Linked DNA regions of Homo sapiens: regions 1, 2 and 3 are each linked to region 4. Evidence: fine-mapped expression QTL. A gene starts in region 4. Each other region holds a variant in brackets. All regions are shown on one strand. Distances are from middle to middle. Region 1 overlaps CAPN2 (calpain 2). Region 2 overlaps CAPN2 (calpain 2). Region 3 has its middle 130 kb from the start of CCDC185. Region 4 holds the start of CAPN2 (calpain 2).

Region 1 (5,148 bases), 44 kb before region 4:
CCTTTCCAACCAAAAATATCCACAGTGGCTTTTTCCATTGTTTACCTTACTATAACACTAGAACTTCCTCAATCCATCAAATCCCCACACTAGTCCTTCGAGGTGGGCAGGTGTTACAGAAAAAGTAACTGACATTCAGAGGATGAAAGAGCCCTCTAGGGGCCGAGGAACAGACCAGTGGGGAGGGACAGGGAAGGGTGGGGAGAGGAAGGGACCAAACCGCCTACTGGTAGTCAGCTTTCTTTTCAGAAAAGACCCGGATGCAGAAATCCCCATCCTTGTTGGGTTCGAAGGTGGAAGGCACGAGAATGTACTCTCCTGGCGGCAGCTTGAAGCGGTTGAGCACCTCCCGGAGGTTGATGAAGGTGTCTGAGCGCTCCCTGGCGCGATTCGTCAGGAAGAAGTTTTTGCTGAGGTGGATGTTGGTCTGCCCACTTAACTGAGGAATAAATAGAGAAACATGGGGGTAGATGAGGGGAAGCCTCCAGGCAAGTATCATTTTCATTCACTGAGATAAAAGCAGTTGGGTAGTGTGGTGGCTCAGTCCTGCTGTCCTGGTGTATAAGGAGGCGAGGCCAGGCGTCAGAAACCAGCCTGGGCAACACAGGAAGCCCTCATCTATATAACGACGACAACAACAACAAAACAACAAAATTTTTTTAAAAAAATAGCAGTACAGTGACAATGCCTGGGTCATTTTAGATAAAAAGCAAACTTTTGTTAGGTGTGGTGGCTCACGCCTGTAATACCAGCACTTTGGGAGGCTGTGAGAGGATTGCTCGAGGCCAGGAGTTTGAGACCAGCCTGGGCAATGTAGTGAGACCCCTGTCTCTGCAAAAAATAAAAATATTAGCCAGGGGTGGCGGCAAGCGCCTGTAGTCTCAGCTACTCAGGAGGCTGAGGTAGGAGGCTCACGTGAGTCTGAGAGTTCAAGGACGGCAGTGAGCTATGATCACACCACTGTACTCTAGCCTGGGTGACAGAATGAGACCTTGTCTTAAAAAAAAAAAAAACAAAAAGCAAACTTTCTACCAAAAAACACAAATGCCTGCTGAGGAACTCGGAAGCACATGCCCACAGGGGTTTCACATCCATTCAGCTCCGCCTGCAGAGATGCCCAGTCTTTCCACAGTGTTCCCAGCCTTCCTCTAAGAGACTCTCAGGCAGGAACAGCGTCCACATGGCAGGAACCTGGCTCGGTTCTACGTGGTGTATGATGCACTATAAAAGCAAAGACAGGACTGGGGGCAGGAGAAAGACAACCCAGCTTCTAAACCAAGCATGATCCACCGGACCAAGGCTGGAGCAGCATCTAAAAGAGCCCGATGTGCTACCGGTTGCACTGCCTTGCTGTGAAAGAAATGTACTACAGGTGGGTCAAAGTGCCCCGTGTGTCTACTTTAATAATCGTGACCTTGGACCAGGCATCCCATCTGCTTCAGCAAGCGGTGACTGTGGGCCCAAATGCTCTCGCAAAATTTAAGTCATTCCACGGTAGTGCAGTGAGGTGGATGGTTGACCAGTTTTACTGAAAAATAAACTGAAATGCAGCCAGGCACGGTGGCTACACCTGTAATCCTAGCACTTTGGGAGGCTGAAGGGGGTGGATCACCTGAGGTCAGGAGTTCAAGACCAGCCTGGCCACCATGGTGAAACCCCGTCTCTACTAAAAATACAAAAATTGGCCTGGCATCCTGGTGCGTGCCTGTAGTCCCAGCTACTGGGGAGGCTGAAGCAGGAGAATCACTTGAACCCAGGAGGTAGAGGTTGCAGTGAGTCGAGATCATGCCACTGCACTTCATCCTGGGTGAAAGAGCGAGACAAAAAACAAACAAACAAACCAAAAATCAAAAAAAAAAAAAACAAAACCCTGAAATGCAGAGAGGAGCTGTAACGTGTCCAAGGTCACACAGCCTGGGAATTGGGTCCTGGTCTCCTCTGTGCTCCCGCGTTGTCTTCTAGTACAGTCTGCAGGGTTCACCTTTTCCCTGACTCAGTCTTCTCCTAAGAGTGACAAAGAACTTTGTGAAAAGCCTCCTGCAGTCTCAGGATCATGGATTTTCTGCCCAGAACCAAACCCTGTATGGGCTCTGCCAGGTCACAGGGAGGCAGCGGGTCCCACAAGGACTTTCCAGAAACCTTGCCCAGAGCTTAGACCAGTGGGATCTAGAGCCTGGGCAACTTCAGCAGGGCCCCAGGGGTGGCCAGGACTCATCCTTCATGACCACCAGCCCCTGCCCGGGCTTCACGACGCTCCCTGAGCTCCAGCAGTCTAAGCCTCTCGCTTTTTTGGTGACCTGAGCACCCCGGGACATGGGCCAGACGTACCTCCTCTGGAACCTGCAAAATAAAGGAGATGCAATTCAGATGCCGGAAAAGCAGTGTAAGAAAATGCATCACTGTGCTCTTCTCTTCCGCTGCCCCCGTTTTCTCTGTAGCATTAGCAATATCAACTAATTCAACCGAGTAACTGTTTTCCAAGGAACTCAAAGCCTCTCCAACACTGAAGAAAATCCTCTTATGTTGATAAGCCCTCACCTCCCTTCCTAACTTAGAGTATAAATCTCAGGCATGGAGATGTGAAGAGACTTGTCTAAGGTGGCAAAGCCCATATCGGCCTCCCACGCAGGGAAAGAGGGCCAGGCGGGCCCTGTTGGAGGAGGCAGCAGGCGAGGTGAAATACACCTGGGGCTAGGAGCCAGCAGTGCCGGCCTCTGTCAGCCAGGTCCAGTGGTCCGGTCTGCATTTCCTTGAGCAAGTCCCCTCTCCTCTCTGGCCTCAGTTTTCTTGTCTCAAAAATAGGACCCAGTGATCCCCAAGGTCCGTCCCAACTCTGAAAGCCCGTGGCTGCATTTCCAAGCCCATAAGCCGGTGGGAGGGAAGCTGTGTATCACAATTCCATTTGCATTGTCCTTGGA[T/G]CGATTCTGTCCCAGATCCGAAGTCCTCAGCTCCTGTTTCAGAGACGGAGGGGTTTAGGCCTATGTGCATTTTTACAACTGATGGTATTTGCCCAGCTGCCTTTCTCAGGTGGGTGAGCAGGTAGAAGTCAGTGTTCCATGGGTGGCAACGTTGCCAGTGGTGAGCACAGAGCCTCCTCTCCTGACACCTCGTCTGGATTCTCCCAGGGGTGTGCTGGGAAACTGGCTCTTGGGAGAGGGTGGAAGCTCTGATTTGTACTATTTGCCACTTTCCATGGTGTAAACAGGTCCCTGCCAGGGCCATTTTTCAGGCTGCTGAAGGACCTCAGCAGACATGGGTCAGAGAAAAGAGATGGGCTTTGGGAGCCGGGAGGAGCCAGCTCCAGCCCATCAAACCGAAATGCATCCCCAGTCAGTGCCCTAAAGCCTTCCTTTCATCCCTCTCCTCGCATGGCTACCTGCAGCCCACGAAAGCTCTTTCTTGTTTTGCAGAAGGGAGTGGGGAGAGCCCAGGGGCCCAGCGTGTTGGGTGAGTTCTCAGTGCCCCAGCCCCAGCCTGAGGGCGGAGAGGAGACTGCAATGCGGCTGCCCTCTGGCTGTGGCTCAGAGTGAAAGGAAAACACGCATACAGCAGGAGTCTGTGTAGGGATCTGGGCTCCAGCCATCAGAGCCCTGGGGGGAGCATCATGACCAATGTTCCCCTGTCCCCAAGCTCTCCACCATCCAGGCCAATGACTTTGCCGAGCTCTGAGCAGCTGCACCCATGGACTCAGTCCTGCCCTCACAGTATTGCCTGATGTGGCCCAGTATATTCTGTTCTTTGAAGATGGGTAGGCTGACCAGAATGCCAGGCCTGGAGGATGTGAGAAGGGATGTGGAGGCCATTTGAGAGTGGAACTCCCTGCAGGCTGGCTGTGGGGGGCCCGTGAAGGGCTTAGAAGGCCCCACAACCCAGAGCCACTGCAGGGGCCTCCCTACGGGGGCTACTCCTGAGCCTGGCCAGGCTGGTAGTTTTGTTTTTCCTTGGCCAAGCTCCCGGTCTGGGATCCCATCCCCAGTTCTGCCTCTGGGGTCAGCTTTCCATGCAGGGGCTGAGATGAACACATGGGGAAGGGAGGGCAGGAGCCCCTGCGCTCTGCACCTCATAGATGCCAAAGCCGATGGTGTGCATGTCCTCGCCCATCTTCCTCTGCCGCCGTCGGTGCTTCTGAATGAGCCCCACCAGGAAGGTGCAGCCGCTCTCCCCATCCTCCTCGTCCTCATCCTCCTCCTCCAGCTTGATCAGGTACTGAGGGTTCATCCAGAATGTGTCTGCAGCCAGAAAGGGGCAGAGGAGCCCAGCCCTGAGCAGGAATGCATGGGGGTGGGGGGTGGCCCTGGTCTCAGGCTTGGAGGCTTCTGAGAGGGATGGAGATAAAGGGAGATGGTGGGAGGTGGTGGGAGATGGTAAGAGGTGGTGGGGGATGGTGGGAGATGGCAGAGTATGGCAGAAGATGGTGGGAGACAGCGGGAGATGTCAGAAAATGGCGGGAGATGGTGGGAGTTGGCAAGAGGCGGTGGGAGGCTGTGGGAGACAGTGGGAGATGGTGGGAGATGGCAGAGGATGGCAGAAGATGGTCAGAGACGGCAGGCGATGTTGGGAGAGGCTAGGAGGTGGGAGACACCAGGGTTGGAGTGTGGACTGCAGGCTTTGTTAGGCTGGAGACGGGTGACGGTAGCTGTGGAGAGAGGATGACCTGCACTTGTCTGAATCTAACAGGAACCTAAATTAGAAACTTTCTCTTGCAGTTCTCTCTCTGGCTCCAGGCTGGCTTGTCTTGGGGACTGGTCTGTCACTCTGGAACGCAGGGTGGTTAGAGCTGTGGCTTCCCCTCATGGTACCTTCTCTTCACTGGGCTCTGATGGGGAGCCTGGGGCGGGGCTCGGCTGGCCTGGGGGACTCCGGGATCTGCTCCCTGCACTTGCCGGTCGCCGCCCCCTCGGTGAGCCCGGAGGCCAAGAACATCCTGTGTATAATTCCAGACTCTTTCTTGTTCTGCGTCCCTTGTCCTCTCAGGCCTATTCCCTTGCCCTGCTCCTGATGTCTCTGCCCTCTTTACTTCCAAAACCTATTTATTTAAAAAATCTAAGATTCATTCATGTTTAAGGGGAATTATGCTAATTGCCTTTCCATACCTAATGGGATAAAACCCTAACTGTGAAATTACAGGCACCATCTTGTGTAGGGGTT
Region 2 (5,148 bases), 51 kb before region 4:
ACGCTCTGTCACCCAGGCTGGAGTGCAGTGGCGCGATCTCAGCTCACTGCAACCTCCGCCTCCCAGGTTCAAGTGATTCTCCTGCCTCAGCCTCCTGAGTAGCTGGGATTACAGGTGCCCGCCACCACACCCAGCTAATTTTTGTATTTTTAGTAGAGACAAGGTTTCACCATGTTGGTCAGGCTGGTCTCGAACTCCTGACCTCGTGAGTCAGGAGGCCCACCTTGGCCTTCCAAAGTGCTGGGATTACAGGCATGAGCCACCGCCCGCCATGGGCCTGCATTCTAAGCCTTTCAGGGTAGGTGGGAGGGGGGGTGTAGCATTTGCTTTCCCTCATCAGAGGGTTCTCGCATTTCCCTAGTAAGGGAGGTCAGCGCTGCTGACTGTCCGACAGCAACTCAGCAAGTTGGGAACAACTGGCTATTTTGAAAAGGGAGAAGGCCATGTGTTTGAATCTTTCTGGAGTGAGATTTTAAACTCCCCCAGTCTCTATTCCCTGGAGCACATTAAAGGATACATCTAGCATGTCAACCATAATTTTGCATGTCTCGATGCTGAAGCCATCTGACTTGATATCTTGGCCTAAAAGACAAAATCAGTGTGACAGGAAAAATCTCTGAGCGGTGATGTCCAACTGAACTTTCCACAATCATGGAGATATTCTTTATCTGTGCCCTTCACATACAGAAGCCACTTCCATTATATTAAATAGCCACATGTGGCTAGTGACTACCAGACTGGGACAGTGCAGATGATGTCCACATTGTCCTGATGTCTCTGTATATTTGCCGTGGGCAAACAGGGCTTTAAAAAGTGCTTTTTGAACAAATAAATAACAGAATGATCAATGGTTGGGCCTTAGGTGCCCACAGGATATAAAGTCACCTGTAGTTGTTGGGCAGGGAAAAAGAAAACAGAGAGCAGGTGTGTTAATTCTAGGCTATGACCCGTGAGAGAAAGAGGTTTACTTGAACTGTCCATCTGCAGACATTTATGGACTGTGTCCCCAGCTGACTGAGAAACCTGAGGAACTGGGATCGATCCACGAGCTATTTGTGCTGCACTAAGTGAGTCCTGTCCACTTGGTGTTTGGCAGGTGGCATGAGACCCTCCCTAGTCACCAATGTGAACCTGGCTCCCCACAGACTTCACGAAAAGCCCAGCCTTTTTGTTATGTCCCCGAAAGAGGTTAGAGCCTGACCTGCCTCAAAGCTGCCACTCTGGGCACCAACCCCTTAGATGGTCATAAGGCTCTGGCCCAGCAGCTGTGCATGCAGACTCTGGTGTGGAGCCCTCCAGAAGGCTGGAGTCAGCAGGCAGCTAGGGGTAGGGTAGTAAGCTCAGAGGCACGCGCGGAGCGAATGCTGCTCCCCCAGCAAGGAGCGGGCTGAATCCAGGCAAGGCCCGCTTCTTCCCCACCTCCCAGCCCCACCCTCCATCTGTGCAGAAACAATGAGGCTTTAGTCTCCTCAGCTCATGAGGACTGCATATCTGAAGAGCTCTGTGACCTCACTTGTGCCTGGTGGCCTCCAGGGTAAACACAATCTTCTTGCCTTCCCTGAAAATTAGAGGAGGGCGGGTGCAGACTGGGTCTCCTCTGGGGAGGCCCTGCACTGGACTGACCGTAACCTGACTGGCCCAGCCCTCTTGGTTCACACTGGGAGGGAAGACCCAGCTGGCCCTGGACTCTTCTTTGGCTCTGAAAGGCAGATTTATTTTATCTCATGGAGTTAGGCTAGAGGCCATCTTGTCAGAGGGAATGATGTCCCTTGAAGTCCATGAGGCTTCTCGAGATGATCCCTAGGGCTGGTATGCAGCAAACAACCATGACTGCATTTGTCTCTGATGCAGATTCCTAACTTCTGATATGTTCAAAACTCTGCTTCCTGGATTGCCAGTTGCTCTCTTAACAAATGCAGCGTGATTCTTTTGATAATTTGAGGGGAAAAAATGTCTCTGTGTTGTGTTTCCCGCTCCTCCCTGCTGGTGATCCACAGTAAGGGGTTGAACAATCAATCCTCTGACATTTTTTTGCTTAAGAAATAGTTAGTTACAAGATGTGGCCGGGCACGGTGGCTCACACCTGTAATCCCAGCACTTTGGGAGGCCGAGGTGGGCAGATCACTTGAGGCCAGGGGTTCAAGACCAGCCTGGCCAACATGGAGAAACCCCATCTCTAGGAAAATACAAAAATTAGCTGGATGTGGTAGTGCATGCCTGTAATCCCAGCATTTTGGGAGGCCAAGGCAGGTGGATCACTTGAGGTCAGGAGTTCAAGACCAGCCTGGCCAATATGGTGAAACCCTGTCTTTACTAAAAATACAAAAGTCAGCTGGCTGTGGTGGCACTTGCCTGTGATTCCAGCTACTTGGGAGGCTGAGGCAGGAGAATCGCTTGAATTTGGGAGGTAGAGATTGCAGTGAGCTGAGATTGTGCCACTTTACTCCAGCCTGGGCGACAGAGTGAGACTCTGTCTCAAAAATAAAATAAAATAAATTAAAAAAATAGATCACACAAAGCTAGTATGTAGTGGAAACCTGGATTTGATCTTTGATCTGTGGATGCTACAAACACTTGTTCTTTTTCATCACATCATACAAATCCTTCATCCACTTCTTGGAGGGGATGGAGGGTGGTGGTTTAGTCACAGCAGCCAGACATGGAGGGGGAAAGATTTCCATGTTCCCTCCCATCCACAGGGGAAAGAGCAGGATGAGGTTTTGCAATGAGGGGATACTCACGCTTTGCTAGAACCCTTCTCAGGATGGTCTGCAGCTCAAAGGCAGAGATCTCCGCATCCTGTGGACAC[A/G]TAACCAGAGCATAGTTATTGGCCCCCCGTGGGAGCTGGATGAGCACAGGGCAGGACACCAGTGCATTAGGTAGGCCTGCGGTGGGGCCTATGAATGTGCATTTCTAACAAGCCCCCGAGCCATGTTGGGGCTGCTGTCCCCAGACCACACTTTGAGTAGTACTGCCCCATTCTGGATTTTAGATACAGTGTTTTTGGTTTGGTTCTTTTTAGAACACCCAGGCTGGGCTGGACTGCAGTGGAATGATCCTAGCTCACTGAAACCTCAAACTCCTAGGCTCAAACGATCCTCCAGCCTCAGCCTCCCAAAGTGCTGGGATTACAGGTGTGAGCCACTGTGCCCAGCCTAGATACGGTGTTTTAATGTACGGATGCAGTAGGGAGAGTTCACTCACCATTTCTTTGCTGTAGAGAATATAAATAATAAATACTCCCCTCTACCCATGTTTGTGGTCTTTCTTAATTCTCTTATACCATTCCTCTTATCTGGCATGTTTTCTTCATTCTTTAAAACTCAAAGCTCAGACTTCCTGTAAAACTGGTGAAAACCAGCTGTCTCCAAGACCTAGCCGGCCCTCCTCTATGCCCATCATGCCAGGGCCCCTCATGGGCTCAGATGTCTCTATCCACTTACACATATTTGTGTAACTCATGGATAAACTCCTTTGTTTAAAACCAAGATTGATTGCAGTCATGTTTGCCTTTTGGGGTGTGTATGTGTGGGATTCAATCAGAGGGGAAAGAAGACTCTCATGGCCCCTTTCCTTGGGAATCTGGGAGGGAGCAGAGGGTGAGAGGCCGGTGGAGGCGCAGAGCAGACGATGCCTGGCTTAGTACTTTGATGGGTCTTTAGGTCAGCGAAGGGAGTACCAGATGAGCTCAATGATTGGAAAGTTCCTCCACATAGTGAAGAAAGAGGACTTTTTTTTTTTTTTTGGAGTTGTTGGGAAGAAAGAGGGCTAAATAACTTTGTGATGGGACTAAATGGCTGAGGGATTTTTTTAAGAACAGGGAAGTGGCCAGGTATGGTGGCTCACACCCGTAATTCCAGCACTTTGGGAGGCTGAGGTGGGAGGACTGCTTGAGCTCAGGGGTTTAAGACCAGCCTGGACAACAAAGTGAGACCCTGTCTCTAAAAAAAATTTAAAAATTAGCTGGGCATGGTGGTATGCATCTGTAATCCCAACACTTTGGCAGACCAAGGTTGGAGGATTGTTGAGCCCAGGAGTTCCAGAGCAGCCTGGGCAACATGGCAAAACTCCATCTCTACAAAAATAAAAATAAAATAAAAATTAGCTAGACATGGTGGTGTGCACCTATAGTCCCAGCTACTTGGGAGACTAAGGTGGCAAGATCTCTTGAGCCCAGGAAGTGGAGGCTGCAGTGAGCTATGATCATGCCACTGCACTCCAGCCTGGGTGACAGAGAGAGACCCTGTCTCTAAAAAGAAAAAAAGAAAAAAGAAAAGAGAACAGAAAAGCCTAATTCAAACACTCTGTTGCAGGTGGCCTGCATTCTTGAGACTTGAAACCCTTCCATCTCTCCAAATCCTTTGTGGAAATCAAGGATAAGGGGCCAAGTTTCATGCCTCAATTGGTGTAGAACAGAGAAAATAAAACAGTCACAAGGTGAGCCCAGGAATCCTAAGGAAGGAGGAACACAGAGTCAGGGCTGACCATGCAAATGGAAGCCCCCGGCAGCATGCGGAGGTCTTAGGGAGGACACACGCAAGAGGGCTGAGCTGGAACCCAAGTGCCATTTGCAATTTCTCTTTGCTTTTGTTCAGTTTGTTTCCTCTCCCCTTTAAACTAAAGTCCCCTTGGGGACACACACTGTCTCTTCCTTTGCATCAACCAGAGTGCATAACATCGTTTTTGGGAACATTTACCTCTCCTGCCAACTGGGCAAACAGTCTCCTGAATCCATCATCAATGTCATCCTCGCTGATGTCGAACTGGAAGGTGAGGCAGAGACATGAGAATGCATCAGAGCGAGGCATGACACCAAGTGTCTGCCCGCCCTTCCATGGCAGCCACCTCCCACTCCCCTTCTCTACCCCTCCCTGGGGCCCAAATTCTACGGTGATTTGGGTTAAGATCAGGTATAGTGTGAAGAATTAATATAAGGTTTTTTTTTTCTAATTAAAACACAAGAAGGAATGTAAATTATGTGGGAAGGAGTAATATTCTAATTTCTCACAGAGGTATCTTCTCTAGCATCCAATTAAAATGGCCTTTTAGGATCTATTCTAGTGGGGACTCAGAAGAATAAAGACTAGCTGGAATGTTGTGGATGGATTTTGACAGTGGCTAGCACAGCCCAATAGGCAAGGGACTGGC
Region 3 (5,148 bases), 190 kb after region 4:
GAACCCAAGAGGGAGGCAAAGGACAAAGCCAACTAGTGACAAGGCTGTTCATAGGATGCTGCAACCTTCGAGGGTAATGACTAGAGTTGACGGGTCCCAGACTTGGGAGATGTCACCAATGGGCCCACGGCCATGCTGCCCAACTGCAGACTGGAGCCTCCTGGATGCACTTGGGCTCCCTGGCACATGTGTCAGGGAGGAAGAGCTCATCTATATACCCAGTGCACACACAACCACTTCAGTTTATCTACAGGACTAATGAATTCTGCCAATGTGATAATCAGTAGGAATGGAGGAGTCAACCAGAGCTAATTTGAAAGAGTGCAAGGTAATTAATTTGAAATGACTTATTTAGTAAAATGGTAATGATGAGGCTAATGTTATCGCCCGAGATGACAAGTCTATTAGTTGTATGCTGCCTTTGGATGGAGCAGGGAGCAGGGCCGTTACACAGAAGTGTGGATGTCTTGAAGGACCTCCCCTTTATCTCTCCCTCCCTTGGCCCTGCCTTAACCAAAGGTTGATTGGTTTCTGCTCTGACTAGGACAGAGCCGCCATAACAGCCCACTTCCCTCACAGCCACTGCCACTGTCCACAATCCCAGGAGAGACAAGCCCATTGCATTGTCCAGGTGATGCCACAGTGGCTGGAGAAGAGCCATGGCAGCTGATGGATACCTCTCATTCAGGAGAAAGTTCTGGTCCTAGAAGAACACTGGAGATGCGCCCCTGGGACAGATCTCAGGAGAGCCTAAATATGAATACAAGACTTAGAAGGTGCCTTTGGAGACTGGGTGCAGTGGTGCATGCCTGGAATCCTAGCACTTTAGGAGGCTGAGGAGGGAGGATTGCTTGAAGCCAGGAGCTCGAGACCAGCCTGGACAACATAGCAAGATCTGCCTCTACCAAAACAAACAAACAAAACCCAAAAAACAGTGCCTTCTGTCTGGGTAGGCCTAGATTTAAGTCTCATCTGCCACCTCTCAGCTGTGCGACCCTGGGCAAACCCCTCAACCTCTGGCCTACTTCTTCACCTGTAAAGCAGAAATGGTAATACCTGCCTTCCGGCACCGCTCAGGCTCCCCTTCCCTTCTTGGCTGCAAGGGGATATCAGAGACAAAGTTACAGCCACACACAGCGAAGAATTTATGTAGCACATTTTGCTCTTTAATTTTGGTTTATGTGCCCTGTTATTTCTCTTTCTTCTTTTGCTTCTGCTTTTAATTCATGCTAAGTTGGTCTTTTATGTAGTCTCATAAGGCTTCTTAACCCATTTCTGGAATAAAGTGGAGGATAAATAAATTACAAGTTGTTGTGAGGATTAAGTGACAATTGCCAAGTGTCTAGCACTTTATGGATGCTCCTTCTGGCTCTCCCCAATGGGATTCCATTGTCGGCTTCCCTCTCTAGATGGGAAGGGCCTGTGGATGGCTGCACAGCTGTGGGGGTACCCTGTGAGGCCGGGGTGCAGGGGAGACAATGAGCAAACAGTGGAAACGGAGTCTGAGGGGGCCAGGGCCTGAGCTGAATAGATGGTCACCACGTAGTCAGATGGAAAAGGCAGAACCCAGGAGTGATGTGAAGAGCCCAGTTTAACGGGAGCTGGCGACATGGAGAGTCAAAGTGGGATGTGTGGGGAAGGGGGACAGACTGCGGCGGTTCCTGTGCTGACGTGCTGGCAACTGTGGCAGCTTCATCTGCGGTACGTGGAGTACTTAAAAGGGTGGGGGGCTCAAAGTAGGGGGGTCCGCTAGGGCCCCATTTGGTAACTACTGGGCATGGATGATCTGGGAGGTTTCTGTGTGCCCAGAAAGGATGAGAAAAGGGTGTTCTGGGGGACCCAGGGCACCAACTAAGCCCAGAGGGGCAGCCTGTCTGCTGTAGGCCAGGGAAGGACTCTCTGAGCACAGAATCCCAGGAGAGCAGCCTAATTAAAGTTTAGAAAGTGCTTCTCAGTCTCACTGTTGGACAAACAAAAAGGTGTTAGAATAGGCCTCTCGAGAAAGCACAACAAGGATAGTTAGACTGTCACAGGCCTTTGATCCTGATGCCATTCAGCAACAAGGCTCGGGTGCTTAGGACTCTGACATACCTTGGCAGAGAAACCGATTTCTGGAAGTTTGCACTTTGACTCAAGAAATAAAGGAGTATCTGAAAGGACAGAAAAGTCTTTCTTTGTCTGGGCGGAAGTTCAGTTTCCTTAAGCCTGGAAAAAATGAAGTATTAGAGGCAGCATAAATAGAGAAATTGTAGACAAAATTCCAGAAAAGTCAGGATACGACTGAGCATGGTGGCTCATGCCTGTAATCCAGGAACTTTGGGAGGCCAAGGTGGGTGGATCTCTTGAGCACAGGAGTTCGAGACTATCCTGGGCAACATGGTGAAACCCCGTCTCTACAAAAAAACAAAACAAAACAAAACAACAACAACCAAAAAACCCCACAAAAATGAACTGGATGTGGTGGTATGTGCATGTAGTCCCAGCTACTCGGGAGGCTGAAATGGGAGGATTACTTGAGCCCAGGAGGCAGAGCTTGCAGTGAGCTGAGATAGCGCCACTGCACTCCAGCCTGAGCAACAGAGCCAGACCTTGTCTCGAACAAAAATGAAAAAGAAAGAGGTCAGGATGTGTAGTGGCTAAAACTCAGGCTATGAGTCAGACAAATTTTGGATACCCATTTACTAGCCATGGGACCTTGGATGAGTTACTTAATCTCATCAACCCTCAGTTTCTTCATCTGTAAAATGGGGTAGTTAGTAGTGGCTCCTGCTGGCCTAAGTTACTGTGAGATTTGAATGAATTAATGCACATCCAGCACTGAGTTCAGGGACAAGCACTGGGCACACACTCCATAAGCATCAGTTCTTCTTGGTTTTAGTATTAAAAGCAAACATCACATACAAAAAATTTAGATTTCTTTTTCTTTTTTTTTTTTTTTTTTTGAGA[C/T]GGAGTCTGGCTCTGTCACCAGGCTGGAGTGCAGTGGCACAATCTCAGCTCACTGCAACCTCTGCCTCCCGGGTTCAAGTGATTCTCCTCCCTCAGCCTCCCGAGTAGCTGGGACTACAGGCATGTGCCACCACGCCCAGCTAATTTTTGTATTTTTAGTAGAGATGGGGTTTCACCATTTTGGCCAGGAAGGTCTCAGTCTCTTGACCTCGTGATCCGCCCCCCTCAGCCTCCCAAAGTGTTGGGATTACAGGCATGAGCCACTGCGCTCAGCCTAGAAATGTTTTTGTTCTTTAAAAATAACATTTTCTTTCTCTTTTTGACATTAGAAGGCACTTAGTCCAGAAAAATAAAACTTTCTTTGTCATGGTAATGTTGATGACATCTTCTACTCTGATTTTTTTTTTCATTTTTCTCAGAACCTGATAAAAACTAAGAGATGGTAGACTGCTGAAGAATTCAATTGCCTAGAGCTCCACTAGAAATGAAAATTTAAAACATCTTAAAGTGAATTCTATTACATTTAAAAAATATTGTGTAAGGAGGGGCTCTTTTACATCTAATTCACCAAATATAATCATTGTAAATGCAAACAAGCTAGACACAATCTATTCCTCAATTCCCTAACACCTGTAGAAGATTTTAAAAATATGACTTATGATGGGCATGGTGACTCGTGTCTGTAATCCTAGAGACTCGGGAGGCTGAGGCAGGAAGATCGCTTGAGGCTAGGAATTTGAGACCAGGCTGGGCAACATAGTAAGATCCCATCTCCATAAAAATTTAAAACGTAGCTGGGTGTGGTGGCACATGTCTGTAGTCCCAGCTTCTTGGGAGGCTGGGGTAAGAGAATTGCTTGGTTCCAGGAGGTTGAGGCTACAGTGAGCTATGATAGCACCACTACAGTCAACCTTGTGACAGAGTGAGGCCCTATCTCCAAAAAGAAAAAAAAAATACAGCTTGCATAAGGAGTAGGGGCTCATATTGGGGCCAATAGTGCTCAGTGAAGGGGAGCCTGGGCCTGAGCTCTGGTCTTCTGGGAGGTGGGGGTGCTTCACAGCAGGCTTTTGCACAAGTTCCTTCTTCTAAAGGTACACATGGAGGAAGGGGACTTCAGGGTGTCAGGCTGGATGTTGGTTCTGGGAAAGAAGGTGCTGGCCTCGCACTTGTCCCCTTCCTTGGCCCAGTGGTGGAAACAGAGAGTTGCCCTTAGGAGGGACAGTGTGGCAAAGGCACTGGGAGTGTGATGCCAAGAAGTGGAGGGCCTTCTCTCTCCCAGAGATGGCTCAATGAGGATGGAAAGGAACGGGGTGTCGTCTTGAGTTGTTGACCTCTTGAGTTGTCATGGCTTTGGGAGCACCTGGAAAGAGTAGAGTAAAGGGTCTCCCGGCTTTCTCATGGGAGACACCGGACAGAGTGAGCCACATCCACAGGGAGAAGCTGCCCTCAAGTGACTCTTGGGCAGTGGTCATCCAAAGGGACAGTGTCTAGGGTAGCAGGATGGGAAATAACTGTTTTTGGGTCCCTATGAGATATGGCCTGAGGATGGCCAGATTCGTTTTCCTTACGACTGCTTAGAAGGTAGTTACCACCTGTCCATCTTTTTTCCAGCTTCCTTTTTTTTTTTTTTTTTAATTTGGAAAAAATCCTCTACTGTAGTTTTAGTTGGGTTTAGTGAAGGAAGAATATTAGATCCATGTGTTCAATCCACTACCTTTTTTTTTTTTTGAGACGGTGACTCACTCTGTCACCCAGGTTAGGGTGCAGTGGTGCAATCATGGTTCACTGCAACCTCAACCTCCCTGGGCTCAGTTGGTCCTCCCACCTCAGCCTCCCAAGTAGCTGGAACTACTTGGGCATGCACCACCATGCCCAGCTAATTTTTTTGGTTTGTTTTTTGTAGAGATGGGGTTTCACCATGTTGCCCAGGCAGGACTCGAATTCCATGCCAACATCTACTGTTTTTTGATTTTTTTTTATGGCCATTCTTGCAGGAGTAAGGTGGTATTTCATGGTGGTTTTGATTTGCATTTCCCCGATCATTAGTGATGTTGAGCATTTTTCATATGTTTGTTGGCCATTTGTATATCTTCTTTTGATAATTGTCTATTCATGTCCTTAGCCCACTTTTTGATGGGATTGTTTGTTTTTTTCTTACTGATTTATTTGAGTTCGTTGTAGATTCTGGATATTATTCCTTTG
Region 4 (5,148 bases):
TGCATGGCCCTTGGACCCCACTGGACTTACTGCTTTAATCCCCGCTCCAGGCACTGGAGCCACTCTTGCCAGTGTTGTGAAATCCTCTCTCCGAGGAAGAGCAGCTCCTCCTGCTGCAAGGCTAACCTGCTCCCCTCCCCTGCCCACAACCCGTATTCTCACTTCCTCAGGGATCCTGTTTCACTGCCCCCTCCCTGCCTTTATCTTTAATCCCTTCTTCCTGGTGATTCAACATATGACACATTCAAGTTGTTCTCATATGAAAAAAACACAGGCTCTCAAAGTCCAGGTCCTACTCTACCTATCAGTTCTCCTCTCTTCCCGGGGGTCCTTCTTAAATAAGTTGATCATGTTCTTAATTTCCAGTTCCTTTACTCTGGAGTCTACAACAATCTGGCTTCTACTCTCACCTTTCCATTGAAATTGCTCTGCTAAACTCACCAATGACTTGCTAGTGTTCAAATCCAGCGGAAACAACTGTGCTCCCCTTGCCTGACCTCAGCAGCATTTGAGAAGGTAGGAAGGAGGCAGAGAGCGCAGCCATAAGGGGTAGGCTCAACATGCACAGACTACACACAGTCCTGGATCTATGCCCTATATCCACTTGACTCTGAGCAAGTATTTAACCTTCCCAAGCCTCAATTTCTTCAACTGGCAAATGGGGATCGTAAAAGTCACACTCTTCCTTAGTTGTGCAGTGCACAGCCCGCCTGCCCTAAGCAGTGGCGCTAGATCATCTCTAGACCTCTACATCCTCATCTGGAAGTCCCACAGGCATTTCCAACTGTTGGGGGACCTGTCTCTGTCCCCTCACTAGCCTCAGAAGTAAGTCTTCAGAAGCAGAAACCATATGCATTGTGCCCAGCATATAGTAGGTATTCGAGAAATGCTTACTGAATGAATGAAAGAATAAGTGAATGAGTATGTGAACTCACTATGTAAACTGTAAAGTGCCATGCAAATGTAAAGTGAACACATTCTCTTGGTTTGTGTTTCACTTTTTTTTTTTTTTTTTTTACTTTTTTATAGAGACAAGTCTTACTGTGTTGCCCAGGCTGGTCTTGAACTCCTGGCTCAAGCGATCCTCCCACCTTGGCCTCCCATAGTGCTGGGATTACAGGTGTGAGGCACTGAGTCAGGTCAGCGTATCACTTTCACAACCATAATTTCATTTGAGGCACATTACAATCCTGCATCCATATTCTACAAACAGTCACTTCTTTTGTGTTCACTGGTGTATCTCCTGAGCTCTCAGGACAGTGCCTGGCATGTAACAGGTGCTCAATCAGTGTTGTCAAATGAGTGAGTAAATGAATGAATGAATGAATGAATGAATACTGTGAAAGGCATGGTTATGTGTCAGGCACTGGGGATATACTGGTAAATAATATACACATGATTCCTGCAGTTCAGTAGGAAGAACAAATACATGTGATTATATTCTAAACTGTGACAATGCTATGAAGGAAATGAGTGGGGTGACAGAGAAAAACAAGGTGGGGAGGTGGCTGCTAAGAAGGGTCAGAAAAGACCTCTTTAGGAAGGGAACATGTGACTAAGTTGGGAAGAATGAGAGTGAGCCACACTCCAGGTAACAGCGTGCCTTGCTGGTGAGAAGGCCTCATGCAGGAAAGAACCGGCTCTTTGAGAGACTGAAAGGAGGCCATGACGGCAGGGCCTAGTGGGCCACAAAAGAGAGAAAATATTTAGGCAGCATGTTTTCTTTTAGATGAAGACATGGAGGCACAGAGAGGTTAAATGGCTCGTTCAAGGTCACCAGCAGGTTAGCAAGAAGAAGAACCCAAGTGCTCTGAGTCTGGGCTAGGGCGCTTCCTGCAGCCCTTGCTACCTATGGGCTGGATTTAGGGTAACAGAAGGTGACCTGGGAGGCTGCTGGGTGTGGAAGCAGAGCTGGAAGCCTTGTTCTCACAACAGGAATCTAGAAGTTGGACTTCAGGGCAGGCTTTCCTAGGCGTGGTAGGGGAAGCCTGGGGAAGTGTCCCAAAGGAGGAGGAGCCTCAGGGGTTCCCCAAGAAACAGAATGGACAAGTAGATTGGGGAGCACAAGTTGTCCCAGGGCCGGGAGGTCAGAGACCCTGGGGGACGGGATAAGGGGGTCTGGAGGGCTCCCGGAGGTTTCCCGGGTGATTCCCGCCAGGGAAACCATGAGACACCTCCGTGTCCTGGGTTAATTACCAGTGTCAATGTTATGAGGAGGTATCGCTGGCTCCCCTTTGGAAAAATAAATCTAACCCCAGGGCTGCAGGAGACTATCCTTAGTCACAAAATGACCAGGCTATGGCCTGTCCCCCTCCATGAACAGACAGAACCCCAGTTGGAGACGGACTTTGTCTGGTAGATGCTGCCTCTCACCGTCCCTTCCCTGCAGACCCGATTCCCCTTCCCTTCCAGCTCCCCGCTAGAGTCCAATCAAAGTTTCACCCCGGCCTCCTGCATCACCCTGAGTTTTTGTGAAGTCCTAAAGTGGCCTGCTAGTGGGATCTGAGGGCAGTGATTCGCCTCGACCCGCCCAGGAAAGCGTGGTGGGTGGAAGAGAGGGAAGGCCCCGGGAGTCCCCCCACGCTCGAACAGAGTCCCGGGCTCTGGCGGCGCGGAGGTGTCGCAGGACTGCGAGGTCCTGGCTTGCGGCTTCCCCACTGCAGCACCCGGGCTGCCCCCCGCCCCAGCGCGCCGCGGGCCGGCCTGCACCCCGCCCTGCCCGGCACCCCGCCCTGCCCGCGTCCTGCCGCGCGCTTCCTACCGTGGGGCGCTTCCACTCGATGCCCCGGGTTTTGCTGGAGTAGGGCCCCAACTCCTTGAAGCCCAGGGCCGAGGGGATGGCCGGGAAGGACGGGTCCTGGAAGAGCGTCCCGGCCTCCAGGCACTCGTTCCGCAGCGCCTCGTAGTCCTGGTTGAGGTACTTGATGGCCCTGTCGTGGGAGCCCAGCCCCTCGGCCGCCTCCCGGTCCTTCGCCAGCTTGGCCGCGATGCCCGCCATGCTGCGGTCCCGGCGGCCGTACTGCGCAGAGAAAGGTCGGGGCGACTCCGCGCTGCGCTCGGCTGGGGCGCGGCCAGGGCCCGGCGCGCTGCTGCGGCCACTGCGGGCGCCGCCGCTGCGAGCGATGATTCACCGGAGGGAAGCGGCCCGGCCCGCGGGGTGTGGCCTCAGCCGCTCCCGGCCTGCTGGGCTCCCGGCCCGGGACCAGGCCATCCTGCGGCCTGCCGAGCGCCGGGAACGCCGCGACCCGGGGCCGGTGCTGCCATCTGCGGACAGCTCCCGGGATGGCGCGGCCCGGCGCCGGGGAGGCTCGCGAATCGCGGTCCAGAGTTGGGGCTCCCACCGGAACCCGAGGCCACCTTTGCAGCCCATAGGGAAGAAGGCTAGGATAGTTGTGGCCGTCCGGAAAACACCCGGGGAGTTAGCAGAGGGTCAGGTAGTGAAGTCGAGGAAACTAAACCAGCTGCCCTGAACTTTGTGCCAAACAGCGTCTTAACGGCTCTGCATACATCATCTCATTTAATCCTCCCAGCGACTCTGAAGAAGGCGCTGATATTGTCCCCATTTTACAGATGAGAAAACTGAGCCTCGGAGACGCTAAATGACGTCCCCAATGTGGCACAACAGTCACAGGCAGAACAGGGACTCTAAGCCACCGGAGGCCTATTGCAATCACAATGCTGCAATTACTACTGCTCAGCTGTTTATTTGATTATAGATAGGGTTGTCAGATTTGGCCAATAAGGCTGGGTGCGGTAGTTCACACCTGTAATCCCAACACTTTGGGAGGCCGGAGGCAGGCGGATCACCTGGGGTCAGGAGTTCGAGACCAGCCTGGTCAACATGGTGAAATTCCGTCTCTACTAAAAATACGTCGTGGCAGGCACCTGTGATCTCAGTTACTCGGGAGGCTGAGACAGGAGAAACGCTTGAACCCAGGAGGGAGAAGTTGCAGTGAGACGAGATCGCGCCACTGCGCTCCAGCCTGGGTGACAAAGCGAAACTCCATATCAAAAATAAAATAAAATAAAATGATTTGGCCAATAAAACAACAACCCTCCCAAATGTTTAATTTGAATTTCAGATAAACAACAGATACTTTTAAAGTATATGTAGGGCCCAAATATTGCATGGGCATACATACTTATTCTAAAAGAAAATATGATTCATTGTTTACCTGAAACTCATATTTAACTGGCAGGATTAGTTGGGTTACTATAGGGAGAGAGCATTTAGAATACTGCCTGTGTTGGCTACTGTGACCACTCTGTTGTGGAGCTAGGGTGTGATTCTCATCTCACACACAGAGACATGGGTGCGTGCCAAGAAATGCAGATGGGCAGAAATTACCTCCTCTTCTTCTCTACAGTAGTAGGGAAGAATTTGGGTTTCACTGGAAAACTGTGCATGGTCTACAGCAGTGGTTCTCAACTGGGGGCAGTTTTGTCCCCTACCCACCCCAGGAGACATTTGGGAATGTCTGGAGATAGTTTTTATGGTCACAGCTAGGAGATGAGGTGCTACTGGCCTTTACTAAGTAGAAGCCAGGGATGCCGCTGAACATCTTCCAATGTCCAAGATAGCTCTTGTGAACCCAGAAAATCTGAAACAGGTCTCATTTAATTTAGAAAGTTTCTTTTGCCATGGTTGAAGATGCACACCTGTGACACAGGAAGTCCTGAGGACATGTGCCCGAGGTGGTTGGGGTGCAGCTTGGTTTTATACATGTTAGGGAGGCAAGAGCCATCAGTCAAGTACATTTAAGAAATACATTGGTTTGGTTCAGAAAGGCGGGACAACTCAAAGTGGCGGGGGGTGGTGGGTGGGTAGTGGGGGTGGCTTCCAGGATATAGGTAAATATTTAAACATTTTCTGGTTGACAATTGGTTGAGTTTGTCTAAAGGCCCAGGATCAATAGAAAGGAATGTTTGGGTTGCGATAAGAGGTTGTGGAGACAAAAGTTTTATCACATAGATGAAGCTTTTAGCTAGCAGGCTTCAGAGTGAACAGGCAGTAAAATGTTTCTTATCAGACCTAAACTCTGGTTGATGTTCACGCTGGAGAGGTATAATGAAGCATGTCCGACCTTGCCTTTCCTTCATGGCCTGAAAATTTCAGGTTAAAATTTTAAGAGCCTCGGCTAAGGAGGA

What was found.
Region 1: its variant is fine-mapped to the expression of CAPN2 in whole blood (TOPMed, PIP above 0.99).
Region 2: its variant is fine-mapped to the expression of CAPN2 in whole blood (TOPMed, PIP above 0.99).
Region 3: its variant is fine-mapped to the expression of CAPN2 in blood mononuclear cells (TOPMed, PIP above 0.99).

The regions. Positions count from the first base shown.
Region 1 is chr1:223,754,561-223,759,708 of GRCh38, reverse strand. CAPN2 (calpain 2) reads right to left here. Exons shown (of 21, transcript NM_001748.5): 10 at 4,060-4,229; 11 at 2,329-2,340; 12 at 228-439. Among named protein-coding and RNA genes, the nearest start is that of CAPN2, 45 kb to the right of the region's middle. The variant T/G (reference allele first, on the strand shown) is at 2,919.
Region 2 is chr1:223,761,801-223,766,948 of GRCh38, reverse strand. It overlaps CAPN2 (calpain 2), which reads right to left. Exons shown (of 21, transcript NM_001748.5): 14 at 4,698-4,763; 15 at 2,742-2,799; 16 at 518-582. Among named protein-coding and RNA genes, the nearest start is that of CAPN2, 52 kb to the right of the region's middle. The variant A/G (reference allele first, on the strand shown) is at 2,810.
Region 3 is chr1:223,518,933-223,524,080 of GRCh38, reverse strand. No RefSeq gene overlaps it. Among named protein-coding and RNA genes, the nearest start is that of CCDC185, 130 kb to the right of the region's middle. The variant C/T (reference allele first, on the strand shown) is at 2,947.
Region 4 is chr1:223,710,491-223,715,638 of GRCh38, reverse strand. CAPN2 (calpain 2) reads right to left here and starts at 3,100. Exons shown (of 21, transcript NM_001748.5): 1 at 2,762-3,100. The coding sequence starts at 2,998. RefSeq lists silencers at 2,634-2,753, 2,964-3,353 and enhancers at 2,463-3,414, 3,454-3,503.